Regions from separate parts of the Homo sapiens genome. Here region 1 is linked to region 2. A link means that fine-mapping ties the variant in region 2 to the expression of a gene that starts in the linked region. Tissue or cell type: whole blood. Region 2 holds a variant in brackets; the other region holds the start of a gene. All regions are shown on one strand. Distances are from middle to middle.

Region 1 (10,408 bases), 40 kb before region 2:
AGCAAAGAGACGAGCCACACAGAGAAATGGACCAGAACATTAAAAAGTCCTGTCTCTACCCTTGGAGAATACCAACACCTAACTTATCCCTCAGATGAGTCCCCGAATCCGGCTTGCCTCTGGCTCAGAGCAGAGCAGGCTGTGTGCTGATGACACACCATGCCATCAGTCAAGTTACTTGCAACAGAGCCAAGCTGTCAGCCCAGGGTCCCCAGCACATTCTTAGAAAAAGTTAAATATGTGAGCTCTCCATAGGCTGTCTTGAGGAGCTGGTGTTTGTGAGCTCCAGAAAGCCCCACATACTGCAAGGTAGATAAGGAACAGTCCGTTTGAGCCTATCGGCAGGAACGCTGCCTGCAGTGGAGAATGAATTCTGACGTCAGAGCCCTGTCTGAATTCTGGGGTTTGCCACTGGGCTCCAGGAATCAGCTGCAGGGAATCCCCACAAATATCCACTGTGTAGGAGGAAACTTGCTGTCTGGTTTATGGGACAGAATTCTAACTACATTTAAAAAACTAACCCAGTTTTGCAAAGCTGGTCCTCTGGGCAGTATATAACAATGACAGCATTAATAGCCAATAGAACAGTGGCTCCCAAGGGAAGGAAAAAAGAAAGAAAAGAGACGGAGACAGAGATTAATGGCCAAATTCCACCTGACTTCAGACCATGCAGGCAGAACCATCTGAGGGCAACCAGCCAGACCTGAGCACGTGAAACATACCCTTTGGTCCGCCGAGGCAGGGCTGGAAACATCTTCATTTGTGCACAATAGTTGCCTCGAGTTTTCTATACTTTCCTAAAATCAGATATCAAGTAATCAAGTAATGATCTCAACATTGTTCAGGTTTATCCCCAGAGGTAGGAATCACCAGCTCACTCACCAGCATGCACTGGACTTCGACTGCATGCCTGATTTCAAGCCACATGGTGCCCTAGGCTCTCTATCCATTAGGATAGCCCTGAGTGCCATTCAGATTTATGCCTTCCTCTTCCTAGATGCTCCAGCAGCTGCCCCCAATGGTGCTGTCACCTCCCCCACTCTCTGATGTCAACTGTCGCACTGAATGGTTACCACCATCCCCTGGCTATACATGTCAGAAACCTAGAAGTCCTTCTCCCTCACCCACTTCCATGTCTTATCAGTTCAGTCTTATTTCCTCTCTTTTTCTTTCTTTCTTTTCTTATTGTTTTTTAAGAGACAGGGTCTCACTCTGTTGCCCAGGCTGGAGTGCAGTGGTGTGATCATAGCTCACTGCAGCCTTAAACTTCTGGGCTTAAGTGATCCTCTTGCCTCAGCCTCCCAAATAGTTGCGACTACAGGCACAACCCACTACACCTGGCTAACTTTCTATTTTTATTTGTACAGATAGGGTCTCGCTACATTGCCCAGGCTGGTCTCAAATTCTTATTCTCGAGAGATCCTCCCATCTCAGATTCTCAAAGTGCTGGGATTATAGACATGAGCCACCACAGCCAGCCTCCATTTCTTAATTTGAGAAAAAATAAATACAAAAATTACAAAGAATGGCTACACACTATAATCCCCTCACCCAGAATTAACAACTGTAAACATCTGGTTATATTTGCTTCTAATTTTATTACATTTTCTTTCTTCTTTTTTTTTTTTTAAAGATGGAGTTTCACTCTTGTCACCCAGGATGTGACCAGTTTAGCCAGTCTGTCCTCCATCACGTGGAAGATTTGTTTGATTCTCTCTGAATCCCCAGCACCTGGCCTGGGCCTGATATTACCTGTTAAACAGATGTACGCTTTTCTTTTCTTTTTTTGCTGGGGGAAGGGGATGGAGTTTCGCTCGTCACGCAGGCTGGAGTGCAGTGGCAAGATCTCGGCTCACTGCAACCTCCACCTCCTGGGTTCAGAAAGTGATTCGCCCACCTCAAGCCTTCCGAATAGCTGGGATTACAGGTGTCTGCCACCACACCCAGCTAATGTTTGTATTTTTAGTAGAGACGTCGGTTTCACCATGTTGGTCAGGCTGGTCTCGAATTCCTGACCTCAGGTGATCCACCCACCTCGGCCTCCCAAAGTGCTGGGATTAAAGGCATGAGCCACGGCACACGGTCAGATGTACGCTTTTCCTTACCCCTTCCAATCTGACAAGCTCATTTAGAAGGAATAAACACAATAATATATGTAGATTCTGTTATTTCAACTGCTTTTAAAAGGGACACGTGGGCAGGGCCTGAGGTCGGGAGTTCAAGACCAGCCTGACCAACATGGAGAAACCCCCGTCTCTACTAAAAATACAAAATTAGCCGGGCATGGTGGCGCATGCCTGCAATCCCAGCTACTCGGAAGGCTGAGGCAGGAGAATCGCTTGAACCTGGGAGGTAGAGGTTCTTGTGAGCCGAGATGGTGCCACTGCACTCCATCCTGGGCAAGAAGAACGAAACTCCGTCTCAAAAAAAAAAAAAAAAAAAAAAAAGGGACACACAGACTTCAAGTTTCAAAATAAAATGTGAAATTCATTAGCTCTGAAAACAATACTTACAACTGAAATGAACACATTTGTAGGATCTAATAATTCTGTCCATTGAAGAAATCGTCGAATAAAGGACTTAGGAGGGAGAAAAGCAACAGAGAGGTTAATGGCAGCAGAAAAATAAAGATATAAATACTAACAGTTGGCTTTTTTTTTTTTTTTCTGAGAACCTGCCAGGGTCTGTGATCTGCCTTTTACTGGCATCATCTCCTGGGATCCTCCCAACCTCTCCAGGTTCTCCAGGTGAGGAAGCTGAGGCTTAGAGGGACTCCTGAATGTACTCAAGGCAACACAGCCAGGAAATGATTCAGAAGTCTGTGCCCTTAACCTCTCAGTATCAAATTGCCCTTGAGGGTTAAAATCCCAGACTTTGGGGGTTCAAATGGTCTTACGTTCATATCTCACATACGACCTCGAAGCAATGGCCTAGAATATCTCAAGAGTCTGTGGCCTCACTCTCTGCTTGCTATAAGGCTTCACTCCAGTGACAAAGGATGGACGCCCCATTAAGGGCTCAATGGTGCAGCTGGGGTCACACTGGGGAAAAAGAGGTTTGCTCCAGCAAACTCTAAACTTTGTAGTGGTTCTGGCTTTAAGCCTTGGCTCTGCTGGAGCAACCTGAGCTCACCGCCCCTTCTCAATTTCCCCACCTAAAAAAAAAACAGGGCTGGACCCCACTTTAGGAGAGGCCTCAAAGAGAACCCCCTAAAGCCCTGCTCTCCAATTCGCCACATGCGGCTGAACCCAGATGTGCTGTGAAGGTAACAGACGCCGGATTTGGAACACTCTGTACCAAAAAAGCGAGTAAAATATCTCAGCAATGTTTTTTACTGATTACATGTTGAAATGTTAATATTTTGCACCTGCTAGGCTAAATGTACTGTATTGTTAAAAATTTCAGCTGTTTTTATCTTGTTTAATGTGGCTACTAGAAAATGTTTAATTACCTGTAAGGCTCACATCATATTTCTATTGGACGGTGCTGCCCTAGACGCTGCAGGGAGATAAGTCCTGCTTATGTCCTGCCCAAGGGTGGCTTCCCAAAGCCTCGGGGGTCTCACCGAAAGTGGCTGAGCTTACCAAGGTGCGAGAGCCTGTTTCTCCCCAATCTGCTGCTCAGCCACAGCTCAGGCAGTAGGGAGCAGCCACCTGCGCGGACTGGGCCCCTCCGAGAGGGCAATCTGGAGGGTGACGTTGTGGTCGTGGGCATCTGGCAGCTTCGATTTCCCCTGCGTCCCCTGCCGCGCCCTAAGGGGTGAAGGCCGGTGGTGCGCGTTCCCGGCACAACTCCGAGAGGAGGAAACGGAGACAGGGGGCGCCCACGTGGCCTGGCCAAGGTCACCCGGGTCAGCCCGACTCCACGCGGCCCGGCCCGCCCCCTCCCTGCCCCTAGTCGCGCCGGGCCCGGGCCGTACTTGGCGCTCGGTGATCCAGAAGCGCACGTTGGGCTCAATGAAGGCGGGGACGGCGTCTCTGCGTCCTAGGAGCCGCCCAGGTTGCGTTTCCTCCTCCTGTTCCAGGGACATTTTGCGCTGGTTAGAGTGGCCGCCGCCGCCAGGCCGCGCGTGGAGGAGGAGCCGGGCGGCGAGCCCCGCCCCGGGCCGCGCGCACCCGCAGTTCCCGCCCCAGGCCCGCGCGCCCGACGTCCCGTGTCACAGCGCCTCGGGGCCCTTGCGCGCCCACTGTTCCGGCGAGCGCAGCTCTCCCACGGGCCACGTCCTCCCAACCCTGCTTGCCCTGCTCCGCACCTTTGGGGAGCCGGGCCGTCTCCAGGCCCCAAGGGGTCACTATCGGAACCCGTCATCACAGTACCTAATGCGAAGACCCGGAAAGGTTGTGAGTGAGGCCGTCCGCAACCTCACCCTGCGCTTCTGCCGCGCCCTACCCCTGGTCATTACCCTCGAAAATCCCTCCGATGGCCCACGAATTCCAGTGTGCATGGTGTTGCGCAGTCAGGCCGGCTGCATCATGGTCTCAGCCCAGGGAAAATGTCAAATGCGGTGCCCCTTATTCATGTTACTGAGAATTTCAAGAGAGTAACACCAGAGCATCAAACCAAGTATAGGGCCCTGGGCACAGTGCACTATCCCTCAGCCCAACAGGTTGTTTTTTTTTTTCTTCCAGTGTTGGGGCAAATCCAGTTCCTTTTGTTGACTACCAAATAGGTACCATTTGTAAAGAAAAACCTGCCTTCCCTTCCTCCTCCCACCTGCCCTTCCCCAGCACAGGGCCAGGCGGGGGCTGTGTGCACTTAAATTCACGGAAGCCACAAGTGTGCCTAGGTCGTTCAGGGGGCCTCCGGAGTCCAGGACTGGGGGACCCAGCACATCATCTAGTTGTGTGACCCTCGCCAAGTCAGTATCTCGAAGTCTATTTTCCCATCCGCAAAATGAGGATAACAATTGTACCTATCTCAGGGTTTTGTTTCTGATCAAAGGAGATAAAACATCCCTAACACAGCACTGAGCCCTCAGAAGTGCTCAGTATTGGCCATTAACCTCCAGCGGGCCAATTCCTTCCCTTGCCCTGCGCCTCCAGGAACAGGAAATTGGCTCATGGCGTCCTTCAGGCCTGTATGACTCTGCTTCTGTATTTGCTCAGTTTGCCTAGCTCACTTTTCTTAACCTCCAGGGGTTTATCTCCTCTTCCAGGAAGCCTTCCCTGACCCTCCGAGTTGAGTAAGGTGCCCCCTCCACTTCTACCCTTATGCCGCAGAAATCCATCTAAGCACCAGTGCAGTATGTAGCGTGCTGTTCTATTCTGTTGTCTCTACCCTCCAGGATGTCACAAAGCCAGCCCGCTGGCCTGCTTCCCCACTTTGGACTGCTATGTCGTCTTAACAAAGGAGCCAGAGTGATTCTCTTAGAACAAGTTGATGTCACTCTTCTTTTCAAATCCTTCCTGACATTCCCCACCCCAGAACAGAACCTAAAGTCCTTGGCCTGGCCAAAAGGCACTCTGGGACCCCCACCACAGCCATAGTCACCGGCCTCCTAGTAAATCTGCATCCGCTCTGAGCCCACTCTTGCCTCACGGCCTTTGTGTTTTCCCTGCCCTCTGCCTAGAAGTCTCTTATCCCCGTAATACTCTCACTTTCTACGCGTTTTCTCTCCCTCGATGCTCATCAAAACCCTGAGATAAGTACAATTATTGTCCTCATTTTACAATGAGAAAATTGATCCAGAGAGGCTCTCCCTTAAGGCCTTCCTTGACAACCCCATCTAGAACACCTACAACTCCGCTTCAGCAGTTTCACTCCACATTATTTTCCTTCCAAACACTCTACTTTTACTACATGTATGAGGTGTTTCCCCTCTAGAATGTAAGAGCTTAAAAGCAGGGGTTTGTCCGTTGTTCGCTCTTGTGCCTGGAAAACAGCACCTGGTGCGGGGTAGGCACTCAAGGATTTACTGAAACAACGAGAAAATGTTTCCCTATCTGTCTTGCCCCTAAACCGAGTTCCTTGAGTGCGGAACCAGCATCTTATTCTCTTTGTGGCCCCTGAGGTAAATGCTCAATAAATGTTTGTTGATAATCTGAGAAGGAAAGGAGAGCCCAAAATAAGCTGATCCAACAGTTACTGGTGGTAAAATGCAAATGTTTTAAAATATGTTTATTTTGTATGTTTTACAATGAATACTTCAGCAAAGAAAATAATTATAATTTCAAAATGCAATCCCTGGATTTGATAAATATCCTTTATAATCGATTACACTAATCAATATCTAGAAATATACATAGACAAAGTTAGCTAATGAATAAAATAAGTAAAATGACTACATAAACTCAATTTCAGGGATGAGGGATCATGCATGATCAGTTAAGTCACTCTGCCACTTTTTAAAATAATACGATTCACATTTGCTTCAATCACATAAACATTCATTGCAGGAGTTACACGGCTAATCATTGAAAATTATGATCTTTGTTAGCTTAAAAGAAAATTCAGTTTAATACAAAGACATTCAAGATGAAAATTTCAGGACCGTTGATCAGAAGCTTTCAATGTGTGTTGCTCTACTTTATTATAGGCAAGATTCAAGTAAGGCTAAGAAAGAAGAGTGTTTCCATTGAGACATGATCTAAGAATAGCCTTCTATAGAGGCAAATTATGTTCTGTAGAAACTAGCTAGCCAGCCACCAAGATGTTACCAATAAAGGATTCCTTGTACTAGCAACTAACCATGTTTAAAAGGTCTTAGCCAGAATTACAAAAACAAAACATTTAGAGTAATACTTATGAATACAAGCATAATTGGTTCCTTGCCTTCTACAAATAACCATCTTGAAAATGATAAAAGCAGGTTTCAACTGTGGTTCTTCTCTCAGTTGAGAAGGTGCAGATACACATGGGTGATCTACTGATTTACCTTCTGAAAGTACTCTTTGGAAGCAGCTGGACTTGGCTTGATCTGAAAATACAAAAGCTTAATTAGGTAACTGTGACTTTACCATAATAATAGTCCCAAAAGTGAGTGGCAATCTCCCAATTTTTAACCTAAAGTTCTTTAAACTTTTAAAGATTTCCTTTAAAACATAAAGATGAAAGTTTCATTAAGGCCTGCCTGTCTCTAGGCCGGGCACGGTGGCTCACGCCGGTAATCCCAGCACTTTGGGAGGCCAAGGCGGGTGGATCACGAGGTCAGGAGATCCAGACCATCCTGGCTAACACGGTGAAACCCCGTCTCTACTAAAATTCAAAAAATTAGCCGTGGTGGTGGGCGCCCTGTAGTCCCAGCTACTCAGGAGGCTGAGGCAGGACAATGGCGTGAACCCAGGAGGCGGAGCTTGCAGTGAGCTGAGAGAGCGCCACTGCACTCCAGCCTGGGCGAGAGCAAGACTCCGTCTCAAAAAAAAAAAAAAAGGCCTGCCTGTCTCTGATAATTGGTTCCTGGCTCCCCACCCCACCCCCTCTACCCCACAGCAGCTTCACCCATTTGCATATCATCTGCACGCTTGCTTCAAGAGTGGGCTCCCTTTTGTGGATATTTCAGGTCAATAGCTCTCGAGGCTGAGAGAACATGGACCTCACTGCTTTTGGGGAAAAAAACCTACCGTAGGAGAATCCGGTGTCCAGTTCGCTGGGCAGACTTCTCCATGTGTTTCTACATACTGGAACGCCTTCACCAAGCGGAGGGTTTCTTCCACGCTTCGGCCCACTGGGAGATCGTTGACGCTCAAATGCTTGATGACTCCATTGGGGTCAATTATGAAGAGACCTCTGCATGATCATTTATCCTCATCAGTGCCTCAACAGTACCAGAACTAGAACAGTCTAACTTCTTCCCTTTTAGGTCTTTAATTCTCCTTTTAATAAAATATTTATTAAGCGTAATCATATGCTTAAAGGTGGGGTTTTCACTGTTGTGCAAAAAACTTATCATCTCTTACTGATGACAGATGCTTTAACAAAGGCAGTACTGGACCAGGTCACCATAAAACATGCAGTATGGTCACACTTACAAGTTCACATAGTGCCCTGAATGTTACACAGTATCGGAAAGTCACTGAACTAGAGAGAGCAAAGACTATTAGTGACTTGGCAAGCATTCTTTGAGCTGCTGTATCACATCTTGGCAAGAAACTTATAGGCAAATGGGAAGAGACAGAGGTGTATTTTATCTAGGTTCAACAACTGTTTATTATGAATGAATTATTGGGTAAATGGGGGGAAATCCCACGGGAAAAATCTTCATAGAAAGAATGTACAGGCTCTAAGTCTATGCAAAACAGAAAACCATGCCCATCACTTTTAATCATGTAGCAGCATGTAATGAGATGAACCACGCTACCACAGTGGTCTGTGTTTATCTTCTGTGTTGGTGTTACTGTGACAGATGCAGATATGTTTAGCCTAGAAGTTTTTTTGGTTGTTTGGTTTAAATATAGGGTCTCACTGTATTGCCCACGCTGGAGTGCAGTGCTCTTCTCAGGTGTGATCACAGCAGGCTGCAGCCTCGAACTTCTGGCTCAACTGATCCTCCCACCTCAGACTCCCAAGTAGCGTGACTATAGGTGTGTGTCACTGTGTCCGGTTATTTAACCTACAGGTTTTAACAGTCTGTCTTAAAAGGATGTGGAAATTTCAGGTATCAATCACTCATGGAAAAGGCAGGTTAGAGAAAACTCAGGATAAAAGATGCTTCTCCCTCCCTGGGTCAGGCACTGGGAGCCTGGGGTTTGAGGTGAAACTGTTCCCAGAGGGTGCAGCCAGCTGAAGTCCACCAATAGAAGGTGAGGCAGAGCTGGGACAGAGCAGGGCCCATAGACTCCCAAAAGTCTTTATCTTATAAGCCAGACTCAGCTTCTCTCTCTTGTTAATCTCAATATTAAAACGGGTACAGAGGTAACTGCAAAATTAGTGAGTTCTCATAGGGAAAGGGACCGTAGGAGAAAAATAGCCAGTACCCTTTCTCTGGCCATTGACAATTCTGAAAGACCTAGGCATTCGTTTGATAATCTCTTTAAAGTTTAAAAAAAAAAAAATGGTCTGCCAGGTGCGGTGGCTCATGCCTGTAATCCCAGCACTTTTGAGAGGCCGAGGCAGGCAGATCACGAAGTCAAGAGTTTTGAGACCAGCCTGGCCAACACGATGAAACCCCATCTCTACTAAGAATACAAAAATTGGCCGGGCGTGGTGGCGTGTGCCTGTAATCCCAGCTACTCGGGAGGCTGAGGCAGGAGAACTGCTTGAACCCGGGAGGTGGAGGTTGCAGTGAGCCGAGATCACGCCACTGCACTCCAGCCTGGGCGATAAAGCAAGACACCGTCTCGAAAAGAAAAGAAAAAAAAAAAAAGAGAGGAAAAAAAGGCCCAAACTCTAAGATGCCACTCAGCGCTAAAACCCAAGGTGTAACCCAAGAAAGAGCAGGCCAGAGGTCACCTACAAGACAGGCAGGTGAGCTGGCTTTGTTTGTTTGTTTGTTTGTTTGCTTTTGAGACAGAGTCTTGCTCTGTCGCCCAGGCTGGAGTGCAGTGGTGCGATCTCAGCTCACTGCAAGCTCCACCTCCCAGGTTCACGCCATTCTCCTGCCTCAGCCTCCCGAGTAGCTGGGACTACAGGCGCCCACCACCACGCCCAGCTAATTTTTTGTATTTTTAGTAGAGACGGGGTTTCACCATGTTGACCAGGATGGTCTCGATCTCTTGACCTCGTGATCCACCTGCCTCGGCCTCCCAAAGTGCTGGCATTACAGGCCTGAGCCACCGCGCCCGGCCAGGTGAGCTGGCTTTAAGCTGACCAGCCCCCAGCAAAACTGTGAGGCACAGCACATCAAAGGGGGATCCCCTCTCTTCCTTCCTGGAGGTCAAGTTCTGCCCTATCCCTCCTTCACTCCTATTCTCAGCAGACTTCAAGATGCCAATTCTAAGACCCAAGTTCTCATCCCTCCCAGGAAGGTTATGTTTGAATGTGGGGCTGCTGAGGACTGAAAGCTTTTCACACTCAAAGGAATAAAGGTTTAATAAGGGACTGAATACAGATAGAAATGATGTTCTGGGGCAGAAATCCTAACAACTGCTGCCAGTAACTATGCTAAAAACTCTAGCTGTGTCACTATTTAATCCTCACACCCACCTGTGACGTACCACCTCATTTTAGTTATGGGAAAACTGGGGCTCAACAAGGTTAAATCAAATCAGTTGCCCAAAGTCACACAGCTATTAAGTAGCTGAGTTAAAAAAAAGAAAAACTCAAACCAAGGATTGTTTGGTTCCAGGGCTGAAGATGGTCACCATTCCAAGAGACTACCTCTTACCCTGCTAGTCCCCCCTTCTGCAGAGTCTGATGGCTTCAATGTCAGGTGTGTGTCCCCATGGAAGTGGCTCCCACATAGTTAGGGAGTATGGAGCAGTGTGGCCTCAAGACGCAGCCAGCCTTCTTCAGAAAGAGACCCAAGGTGGTG
Region 2 (11,729 bases):
CTAAAAATACAAAAAATTAGCTGGGCGTGGTGGCAGGCGCCTGTAATCCCAGCTACTCAGGAGGCTGAGGCAGGAGAATCACTTGAACCTGGGAGACAGTGAACCAAGATGGCGCCATTGCACTTTAGTCTGGGCAACAAGAGCAAAACTCCATCTCAAAAAATATATATAAAAATAAGTAAAAATTACTGGAGAAGAGGTTATTTTTCCTTCACCTACTCTGAAAGTACAGAATTAATTTTTATATTTTTACTGTGTAATTTCCTTGCCTATTTGAACATTTTTCCTCCATCTAAATCTATTGATTGTTTCATCACTGAACCAAACAAAAAAGTGCCCAACTTTCTGTGTGCCATTTTTGGGTTAAACATCTCATGTTTTACTCAGTCTGAAAATGGAATCGAAGTTGGTTTGCCTAGTTTCCTTTAAAATTCTGGGACCAATTTAACTACTGGGTTGATTATAGGAGATGCCAGGTTCGAGGTCAGAGGTACCATCAGAGAGCTGGAAGTTCCAGGGACTGACAGTCTGCCCTTGACTTTCTGTAACACGTTGACCTCTGACAGGAGACCAATCTCCCCTAATTTTTTCCCTTTTAAAATCTGACCTGGCAGAGATGTGGGAATTTTGATAGTTACCTAATATAGCAAAACTTAGCAGCCAGGAGGCCCAGGTGGGGCTGAGTCATGCCATATGGGGTATAAGTCAATAAATATGGCCAAATGCTCCCTGTGTCAGGCATGTACTAGGTTCAATAGAGAAGAGAATCAAAAGATGAAAAAAGACACATTTTAGGCCTTTGAGTAGGGAAAGCAGACACCTAAATAGCCTCACCATCCACTTAATCAGTTGGCCTTGGGCAGCAGACCTCCTAATTCTCTGAGGCTCAGTTGCCTCTGTATACAATGGAGGCAACAATGTCTTTCGAAAGTACCTGCCTTGGAGGATTGGATGAGGTTCTGGGTATAGTAATGGGATGGGTACTGGAGAAAGGTGCACGGACTGAAAAGCTGTCTCATTAAACTTTGTAACACATCTACTGTGGGAACCCTCCTGACTGAACATGGCACCAGGGAAGGAGGACTTTCCTTTTCATTAAAGAAGACTGTGTTAAATTGCTGTAGTGATGGGAGTTTGGCAACCACATGTGGCTGAGACAATCAGCAGGTGTGTGCATTTCAGCAAGAATCTTCTTTTCTGAACTTGCAGTTGAGAATTGATGCAAGACAAATGATCCCACAAAATCTTGTGACCAAGCTAGGTGGTTAGATGTGTATAGGTAATAATCACCTGGCAAAACCAATCGATTCATTAAGATTGGCCAGTTCATCTGGAAACCAAAGGCTGCAAAGACACCACGTGTTGCTTGGAGATTGGTTTTCTCAAGCATGACACTTCTACTACTCCTCACATTTCACAAATATTATTGGTTAGGATGAATTAAAGTTTTCAAAGTGAGCTGACTTTAAAGAAAAATATTGGCCGGGCATGGTGGCTCACACCTGTAATCCCAGCATTTTGGGAGGCCGAGGTGGGTGGATCACTTGAGGTCAGGAGTTCAAGACCAGCCTGGTCAACATAGTGAAACCCCACCTCTACTAAAAATACAAAAATTAGCCAGGTGTGGTGGTGCGCACCTGTAATCCCAGCTACTCGGGAGGCTGAGGCAGGAGAATCGCTTGAACCCAGGAGGCAAAGTTTGCAGTGAGCCGAGATCATGCCACTGCACTGTAGCCTGGGCAACGGAGCGAGACTCCATCTCAAAAAAAAAAAAAAAAAAGAAAAATATGAAGTCACTAGAAGAGCAATAGGCAGTTTACAACATGTTAAAACTTTTTCTTTTTTTTTTTGAAACAGAGTCTCGCTCTGTCGCCCAGGCTGGAGCACAGCGGCACCATCTCGGCTCACTGCAACTTCTGCCTCACGGGTTCAAGTGATTCTCGTGCCTCAGCCTTCTGAGTAGCTGGGACTACAGGCGCACGCTGCCATACCTGGTTAGTTTTTGTATTTTTAGAAGAGACGGGTCTCACCATGTTGGCCAGGCTGTTCTCGACCTCCTGACCTCAGGTAATCTGCCCACCTTGGCCTCCCAAAGTGCTGGGATTACAGACGTGAACCACTGTGCCCTGCCCATAGTAAAACTTTTAATGTCCAATTGATAACCACTGAGGTCCATTGATGAAGGGAATTCAGAGGGGAGGAAATGTTAACTGGAAACCTCAAGCCTCCAGATTTGCTTTCAGCTCACATTTCTCCTCTTTTGGTGCCTGAAATCACTTCTTCCCGTTTGCAAAGTCCTTTGTGTGTGTCTCCACAATGGCCCTTATTCCATTGTATGGAGGTTGTTTGCATCCGGTGTGTTTTCCTTCCCAGTGGCGAGCTCCCTGGGAAATTGCCTTGAACTCCCTGCAGGGCTGGACACAGAAAGGTAAACTCTGAAGGAGAAGAGGATAAATGAGAGAATGGAAGCTCTATCTGCAGCTGCTTCCTGAGGATTAAAAAGCTTTGAGTCAAGGAAAGGAATGGAAACTCCAGTTCCTGGACTATTCAGAAAGCCAATTTGATTATTCAGGCAAAAGGAATCTATATTTTAGAAGGCCGATAGGTTTGTGGCTTTCCAGCATAGTAGACTTCTATTTACAAGAACTCTGACCCAGCAGCTTTATTCATGGCAGATACAGGTGCTGAGAGAAGAATTTGAAGGTTCCCTGTTTCTTTTGCTTTTTTATTTTTTAGAGACAGTCTTACTCTGTTACCCAAGCTGGAGTGCAGTGGGGCGATCATAGCTCAGTGCCACCATACCTGGCTAATTTTTAGGTTTATTTCGTAGAGACAGGGTCTCGCTATGTTGCCTAGGTTGGTCTCGAACTCCTGGGCTCAAGCGATCTCCACCCCCCCATCCCCTGCACCCTTGCTTTAGCCTCTAAAAGTGCTGGGATTGTAGGCATGAGCCACTGCATCTGACTTCTTTTGCATTTTTGGCTCAGCTGCTCCTGAGTGGAGTCTGAAGCTGGCTGTCTTTGACATATTCCCATCCCTCCATCCTCACCCCCACTCCTCCATTTGGATTTCCCTTCTTGCTCTCAGCTGGCTGTCAATGATTCCCTACTTAGCTATTTATATTTAATAGCCTACTCTTCCTTGAATCAAACCCATTTTTCAAGAAGACCACGAGTTGTTAGTGCAGTTAATTGAAAGGAATAAAGCCATAATGGTGGAATTATAGATGAAAATGGAAAACCCCTTGAAATCTTAATGATTTAGTCAACTGGGTGCTTTGCCTTCTTATAATACAAGTTCATCCCGGCAGCCACACAGAACAGTTACTACCAAGCTGTGCTGGCTAGCTTGCGCAAGCCAGAAATTAAGTGCACCAACTCTGAGTCAGGCTGACAGGTTCAAATCCCGGGTCTTCTACTTATTACTTATGTGACCCTGGACAAATTATAAAACCTTTCTTTTTTTTTGAGGAAAAAAAAAAAGTCTCACTCTGTTGCCCAGGCTGGAGTGCAATGGCATGATCTTGGCTCACTGCAACCTCTGGCTCCCGGGTTCAAGTCATTCTCCTACCTCAGCCTCCCGAGTAGCTGGGATTACAAGGCACCTGCCACTACACCCAGCTAATTTTTGTATTTTTAGTAGAGACGGGGTTTTACCATGTTAGGCTGGTCTCGAACTCCTGACCTCAGGTGATCTGCCTGCCTTGGCCTCCCAAAGTGTTGGGATTACAGGCGTGAGCCACCGTGCCCGGCCTATAAAACCTTTCTTAACCTGGTGCTTTATCTATAAAATAGGCCTGTGTTCCCTACCTCATCTGGATATTGTGTTCAAGGAGATAATCCATTTAAAAGACCACAAGAGCCTGGCCCACAGTTGGTGTTGAGTAAATGCTAGCCATTATTGTTCCATTCTTGCATTGGAGTGTCTGAATTTCCTCATAGAGGCACAAAAACCTGATGTACAACCATGTATTTGTGTAGGCAGGATGCAACAGCTTGTAGTGGACAAAAAAATAGTCTAACACTAACTTGCTGAGTGACCATGCCAACTCACTTACTTTGGGTCTGTTTCACATCTGTAAAATGAGAGGGAGAGGCAGGGGTTCCCAGGATGGAAAACTTAAATGTCTATACAGGCCAGATAAATAAAATCACTAGTGACTTGGGCTGGGTATAAGACAATAGGGAGTTACGGTAAACTAGAAAGCTTTTCAACTCTGAGTGTGGTCTACTGACCACGAGGATCGACAGAGCCCTGGAGTTTGTTAGAAAGAGCAACATCTCAGAAACCACCCCAGATCTATCCAAATGCAATCTGCATTTTAACAAGATCCCCCGTGATTTGTATGCTCATGAAACTTTGAGCCAGGCATGGTGGCTTATGCCTGTAATTCCAGCACTTTGGGAGGCAGAGGCGGGTTGGATCACTTGAGTCCAGGAGTTCAAGACCAGCCTGGCCATTATGGCGAAACCCCGTCTCTACTCAAAATACAAAAATTAGCCAGTCATGGTGGCACACACCTGTAATCCCAGCTACTTGGGAGGCTGAAGTACAAGAATCATTTGAACCTGGGAGGCCGAGGTTGCAGTGAGCCGAGATTGGGCCACTGCACTCCAGCCTGGGTGACAGAGTAACTGTCTCAAAACAAAACAAAACAAAAAAACAAACAAAAACAACCTTTGAGAAAATTGTTTTTTTTTTTTTTTTTTTTTTTTGGTTCGGAGTCTCGCTCTGTCGCCCAGGCTGGAGTGCAGTGGCGCGATCTCGGCTCATTGCAACCTCCGTCTCCCGGGTTCACGCCATTCTCCTGCCTCAGCCTCCTGAATAGCTGGGACTACAGGAGCCCAACACCACGCCCGGCTATTTTTTTTTTGTATTTTTAGTAGAGACAGGGTTTCACTGTTAGCCAGGATGGTCTCGATCTCCTGACCTCGTGATCCTCCCGCCTCGGCCTCCCAAAGTGCTGGGATTACAGGCGTAAGCCACCGCGCCCGGCCCAAGAAAATTGTTAAGGTGCATAAGCCATCTAAAGGCATTCAAAAATTTTCTTTCTTTTTTTTTTTATGTTAGCCGAATAAACAAACTTCGGGCTTCATCAGGCCCTATGCTGCCAGCAAGTGACCAGCGTGGTTGGTGGAGGGCTCTAGGAGCTGCCAGCTTTAGGGGTCTCGCTGTCTGAGAGAGATCCTTTCATTAAAGGTTAGGGCTCTAGGCACGTGAATATGTAGCAAAGACCAAGCCTGGATTGCTTAGAACAGTAATTCCTGGAGTGGTAAGTGCCTGAAAAGTTACCCGCTGAGCCCTCCGCCTTCTGACAGGTAAACTGTTGTTGCCCCCATTTTGCAGACAAGATAAATGAGGCCCTGGGAGACTCACTGACCCAAGTCTAGACACCAGGAAGTGGTGGTGGTGGGTATACTCCCCCAGGAAAGCAGGTAATCTTGGGTTGTTACAATCAGTGACCAGACCAGTTTCCAAGGCCTGGAAGGTTTATTGATTTCTTTATATTCTCCAATGCATAATAACTGTTCTCTGTTTCTCTCGGCACCTCCCTGCGACTTCCTGGCAGCCCTGGGGACAGAGGGTTTCCTCCTTCTGGACAGAGAAGGCCCAGAGTCGGCTTCTGAACGGATATCCGGCCCGCAGGATGCAGAGGAGGCAAAGGCCTCATTGTTCTTTGGGGCCTGCCTGCCCCGCCCCCAGCTGTAGGACACTCGTGGCAGATCCCGGGTGACCGAAGACAGCCCATTTCCAGGAGTGGGGCCTTCGGAGCGGAGGGAGCAAGGAAACGGGGCTGAGCACAGACCTGGAGTCTGATGTTCTGAGCATAACACTGGAAGGAGCTAAGAGCCCCAAAATAAATAAGACCGGAATTTAAAAACGTTAATCCCACGCCGGCTTGGCGCTGGCCTGGCTGTTACTCATTAACGCTCCCCACGGCGGAGACTCCGGCGACTCCGTCTGCGTTTTTATTACTTAATCTGGCTGGGTTTGGCTGCAGGGAGGCTCGTGGATTTGCTGGCCGGGTGTGCTGGAAGGCAGTTTATTCACAGAATAAGCAGCTTCCCACGCTGGACCCTGAGCCCCAGGCGCCGTCCGCGTAGACCCCGCGCCGCGCACCGCGGCCGGCGGGGGGCGCTCGGGTCGCACCGAGAGCAGCGCGGGCAGCCAGCGCCGGGTCGCAGCCGACCCGCAGAGCCCTTCGCGCCCTCCGAGGAAACAAAGTGCATCTTTGTCCGCGGCCCGAGGCGCCGCGTGGGAGACGCTGGGCAGGGGCCAGGCCGGGCCGGCCGCCGCCGCGTGCGGGGACCCTGGGCGCGCGTCACTGACCCGGGACTCAGACCCTCGCGGGCCTGGCGCGGACCGGAGGAAGCGGGCTG[T/C]GGCGCGCGGCCGAGCTGGCAGCCCTCCCACTCCGAGCACGGCTCGGGACCCGCACTGGCTCCTGCCGGGCCGCGGCGCTTCACGCGCCGTCACCGGGGCCCGTGCACTCCGCTTTCCGGGCTGGCGACGGGGCGGGAAGGGGGCAAGCGGGAGCCTGCGGGGGGGTGCTGGGGACTTCGGCTTGGCTGGGCCGCCTTTGAGTCGCCTGTCGGCCGGGCGGTGCCCGCCTTCGCTTTCGGTGCCGTCCCGGGGCGGGTCCTCGCTCCGACAGCCGCGCGCCAGCCCAGCTCAGCCCCGGCGCCGCGCGGCCGGGAGGACTCCAGCTCCCAGCAGGCCCCGCGCCGCGAGCACCGAGGCAGGAGGCGCGCCTGGGCCGGCGCTTGCGCAGTGCGGCCGCCCGAGCCTGCTAGTACCACACCCCCGGGAGGGACTGAGGGGAGGCAGAAGCATCCGAGGCATTAAAGCATCCGAGGGAGCCGGAGGGGAGGAGAATGGAGTGACAGAGACACGCGGAGGGTGGGGGGTGGGGGGGAGCGTGTTGAGGGAGGGGGGAGGGGGGACACAGAGGGAGGAAGAAGCGGCGGCGGCGGCGGCGGCGGCGGCGGCTCCTCTTTGCAGAGGGGGAAACTCTTGGGCTGAGAGCAGGAATAATGCGGTAGGCAAGGCGGGCTGCTGGCTCCCCCGGCTCCGGCAGCAGCGGCGGCAGCCCGAGCAGCGGCAGCAGCAGCGGCAGCACCCCAGGCGCTGACAGCCCCGCCGGCCGGCTCCGTTGCTGACCGCCGACTGTCAATGGAGCTGGAAAACATCGTGGCCAACACGGTCTTGCTGAAAGCCAGGGAAGGTAAGAGGCAGGGCCGGTACGTGCCCGGCGCGTCCGCCGCGGGCCAGGGTGCGGGTGTCGGGTGGCGTGCGGGCTGGGGCTGCGCCCGTGCAGGATGCCCGCTGCCGGCGAGTGGGTCGCGAGCAGGACACTTCGGAGAGCGGCTCTGCAGACCCTTCAGGGTTCCTGCCTTGGGGCTCAGAGAATCTGGACTTGGGCTGAGAAGGTTGCAGGGATTTGGATGCTAACATATCTCCTAGTTTCCAGCGCTCGCCCTGCAGAGCGTGCCATCTCGGCAGCTGTTGAAAGGTCAGTTGGAAAAGCATTCATTCGGGGAGCGACGAGCAAACATGCACATAAAATAGCGTTTCAAGTCGGCCCGGGATGGTTCTGTGTGAACTGGTGTGTGTGTTCGAGGGGCGGGGGTGGAATGAGCAGAAGCCAAGTCTTTGCCTGCGCAGGCTGAGTTGATATAGACTATTGCTGGAAACCATCCGCTGGGATGTTTCTTAGGGAAATCCCGTCGTGTGGAAGGAAGCCTTTTAAAGGCAAAGTCAGATGTTGAGGAATTAGCCTTTTCATAGAATTATCAAAGGATGGCTGTACAGACCACCTAGAAAATAATTCAGTATTTCAGGTTTTTCTTTTCTGGGAGTGTGATAACTGAAATTGTTAGATTTTGGCTCAGTTAAGAAAAGAAAGGTAAGTGTGCTGGTGCTTTAGATACGTTTTCTATGCAAATCATTAGATTTCCTGCATTTAGCTGGCAGGAAATATTGTCTAAATGGAGTGTGTAAGATCCTGAGTCAAACCCTAAGAACGCATATTTTGACTCTTCCTTTTGATGAAAAACAGAAAAAAGGGGGGGGAGGCAGAAACTTGGGTGCTTCCTGAAATGATTGTGTTGTGTCCATGTAAACATATGTATTTAGGAATACCTGGAATTTATGTCGCATATTTTCCTTTTTTTTTTCTGGTCAAGATTTGAGCTCTAGTGTGCGACCTTTTTCATAAAAGGGGAAGAGGTTTTTCCCTTTCACGGGAGAACGCTTTATTTGATACAAGGTAGAAGGCAGACTGAGTAAGGGCTTGAGTTTAGAAGGATACTCGGTGAGCAGCCCATGAAAATGTCTTACCTGCTTAATATTTTCATTCACCTACTTTGATGAATGAAGGGAAGAATTTCTGGCCAGCAATAAAACGATTCGTGTTTATTCAGCCCGTTCCATCACCTTGTGGCTCCCTACACACTGTGGGGGTAGGTGATGCATAGCCTTCCGTGGGCAGCGTTTCAGCAACTCAACCCGGCATTCGTGTCTTACTTTCGTCGTCACTTGTCACTCTAAAGCAGCCAGTGGGCAAGAAGGTTTATTTCAGAAGCCCCGAAGGGAGGCAGTGCTTTGAAAACCCCAGCAGAGTTTAAAATATTCAGGTTAGTCTCCCTCCCATTGCTTAGCTTTGGTGGGAATAAATTTTTAGGAGAGGCTTGTTACTTGGTGACTTCAGGTTCTAAGGCCTGAGCTGTGTGTGTGTGTGTGGTTTTTTTTTTTTTTTTTTTTTTTTTTTCCTAACCTGACATTTTTAGTGGACAGGATCTAGGTGGGTGCTGGTAGGCTCTCCTCTGGGTTGGGGAATGGTCCTGAAAGGGAGGAAGCAGAGAAAACAGCCCTCCACCTCCCCCGCCCCTCTTTCAGCCTTTGCAGCTGGCCACCTAGTGGTGGGACACGGTTGTGTATCTCAGGATTCGGGGGCTGGGAAAGTTTTCACTCTCGCTCCATTCTGAAATTATTTCTTGGGAAATCACTGGGTCTGATGGTACTGGAGCCTTGCAAGTTTCGCTGGTTCCTCCTGTTGCCCAGGGAATCTGCCCCCGACATTTGCTGCTGTAGATATTTGTTTGCCTGATAGATGCTTTTTTTCTTCCCTGAGCATTTGGTTGCTTCTTTTATAATGCTTTGCTTAGAGTGGGCAAAGTGATATCAATTCCACCCGCCCCCTCCAAATTGTTCTCCCCAGTATTTTTTCACCAACGTGAATTTACTGTCTGATATTGTTGTTCGTTAGGCCAACAAATTGGGTTTTTTTCCCAGAGCCTTGGAGAAGAGAGCTGCAGGCTGGAAGCTTGTGTGGAGTGACCGACTCCCATTGGGGCAGAATTACAGTGATTGAAAGTGCTCAAGAATGTGCCTTTCACTTTTTTTTTTCCTTTTAAAGGCTTTTTCAATTTTGCTGTGAGAGTTTGGTCGTCATCTCATGGTGAGAAAATAGCTCTTGATGATGCCTTGGAAATGGAGAGGGCCTGCGGAAGCAGGGAGAGACTGACACGTGAACAAGAAAAATTAATCATTTAATGGAAACCTCATTTACAATTTGCATCTCTCCCCTTCTTTCTCTCTTATGCCTAGAGGAAAGCCATGATTTTAAGTGCTTCCAGTTTCTTTTGGCTGGGCCTTTATTAGAGACTTGAGCCCATATATCCTAATTAGTGTGGACACTTTTAGAAATTAAAGCAATTTATGTTTCTCTTCTCAGTTCTCATATATTTGAATTTATTTTACTAAACTTAGTAGTTCTCCAAATAACCATATTATCTAAATATTCAGAAATGAAATCTTCAGTCAGTTTAGTGAAATATCTAATATAAAACAGTATATTAAAAAAATCTGAGTTGTTTAAAAGGTTTAAAAACACTTCTTAAAGATTCTTGTCAGTGGTTACAGATGAGAAATATAATTGGCAAATGTGAAATTTAATTTAGTTCACTTAACAAAATACACCGTAAGCAATTTAAAATTTGGCTTTCAAGTAAAAGTCACATTTGTCCCAAACAATAGAGAAACAGACCTTGAAGAAAGACAGGCACACTTTGAAAATGCTGTAAAATAATTTGTAGTTGTCCATGTTGGTGGGTAACACTGGGACCTATCTTTTCTTTTTGTTTTGCATTAAAGACAGATGGCTCCTAAATTCACTGTATCTTCAAAGTCTTACCGTAATAAGACATAATATAAAGTGGAAAGCATTAATGTAGCAATAAAATAGAAAGCCTGTAAGTGGATTAGAGTAAAATGATGGATTGTTAGTAATTAGAAAATATAGCAAGCAAGCTTCATGAACACTTGTGATAATTATTTTAAAATAAGAAAAGGTAGAGGTATGGGTTCAAGATTTTGAACCACGGAAATGTATTTTGGGGCCTGTTTATTTGTCCTGGGTCTCATGAGAAAACATCAACTCGATCACTCTTAGGAACTTTAGATTGCTCTCCTAAAAAGTGCTTAAGGAAAAAAAGAAAGAAGTTGAGACTGAATTCATGGCAATTTATGGGAATGAGCTAAGTGATTAAGCATTTCATGAAAAAGAGGCCCAGACTAACTCTATCTATTTATTTACATTTCAGAATCTCAGAAAATTGGCAGGCGACCTAATGTTGAAATAATAATGAGAAGGAGAGTTTGCTGAGTGCCTTTTGTGTGTTTCTTTTTGGTTTTATTGTTGCAGTAAAGGTTTTTGTGTTTTTCTCATCTTCTAGATCTGTTGCCTTTCTTCTGAGTGAACAGTGGTGAGAAAAAATTTTGCAAGGCCCCGCTTTTCCTTTCTTCACAGGCCAGCAGTAGCCATATCTGATCAAAAAAGATACCTGAAGGAATATTGATCACATTTTCCTGAGGCCCTAGCAAGCACAGGAATTGAGAAGTTAGGACTGGAACAACTTTGTCATTTGTCACAATTGCCAAACATTAGAATACACAGGAACCGTTTTTTCAGGTAACTCTGTGACTTGGCTGGATCTTCCTGATCATCAAGATTAGCACCTCGGGGCCTGGAAGAGGTTAGGGAGGGCAGGAAGAAGGAGTGAGCCAGCATCCAGCTCTGCGTGGGGCAGGCTATGGCGTGGACAGACTTAACATTCCACAGCACGGCTGAAAGCCCTGGACCTCTTTCCCTTGCACCCCTAATTCATGGTGATAAAACCAAAACATGGTGAATTAGGTTATTAGAACGTTGGAACATCTCTGAAGCTCAAAGCCCTCTTATGGCTATGTGAAGGCATACGTGGAGGCATACGTACTCCACCCTGAAGCTTCTCCTTCAATTTTAATGTTAATCTTACCAAGCGACAGCTTTCATCCTGGTTAAGGCAGCTCGGTGTGTGTAAAAGCAGCCTGGCCTGTTAAACACAATGCCGTTAAATCAAACTGCCTTTCTTTTTTTTTTTTTAAAGTTTCCTTTTCAGTACTGACAACTTGGAGGTAGAGAAACCAAAAGCAATGTTTTCAGAAGGCCTTTTGCTTTCTTAAAGATTTCAAACGATGATTGTAGTTAATCTGGCTGCCTGTTTGAAAAACCATCAGATAAATGCCCACAAGGCTCTCATCTTTCAGTAGCTTAGCTGCTGCTTGTCAGATTCTAAACTCCAAAGTGCTTGACTCTTCCAGTGCCCAAACTAATCCTTGTTTAAATTATGTCTTCAGAAGCTATAACTCTTATAGTGGCTTGCTAAATGATACCCTTTGGATCTGGGCTG

The links. PIP is the estimated chance that this variant, and not a neighbour inherited with it, causes the effect.
Region 1: SFXN4 starts here. The variant in region 2 is fine-mapped to the expression of SFXN4 in whole blood (TOPMed, PIP above 0.99).

Annotation. Positions count from the first base shown.
Region 1 is chr10:119,161,618-119,172,025 of GRCh38, forward strand. It overlaps SFXN4 (sideroflexin 4), which reads right to left and starts at 4,097. Exons shown (of 14, transcript NM_213649.2): 1 at 3,920-4,097; 2 at 2,514-2,579; 3 at 723-797. The coding sequence starts at 4,030. It overlaps PRDX3 (peroxiredoxin 3), which reads right to left. Exons shown (of 7, transcript NM_006793.5): 6 at 7,560-7,725; 7 at 6,103-6,916. The coding sequence ends at 6,863. RefSeq lists silencers at 3,548-3,734, 3,776-4,245.
Region 2 is chr10:119,200,748-119,212,476 of GRCh38, forward strand. GRK5 (G protein-coupled receptor kinase 5) reads left to right here and starts at 6,824. Exons shown (of 16, transcript NM_005308.3): 1 at 6,824-7,222. The coding sequence starts at 7,171. It overlaps GRK5-IT1 (GRK5 intronic transcript 1), which reads left to right and starts at 7,674. Exons shown (of 2, transcript NR_186528.1): 1 at 7,674-7,903; 2 at 10,734-11,729. RefSeq lists enhancers at 5,331-5,410, 5,521-5,570, 5,591-5,700 and silencers at 6,041-6,870, 7,081-7,150, 7,201-7,250. The variant T/C (reference allele first, on the strand shown) is at 6,381.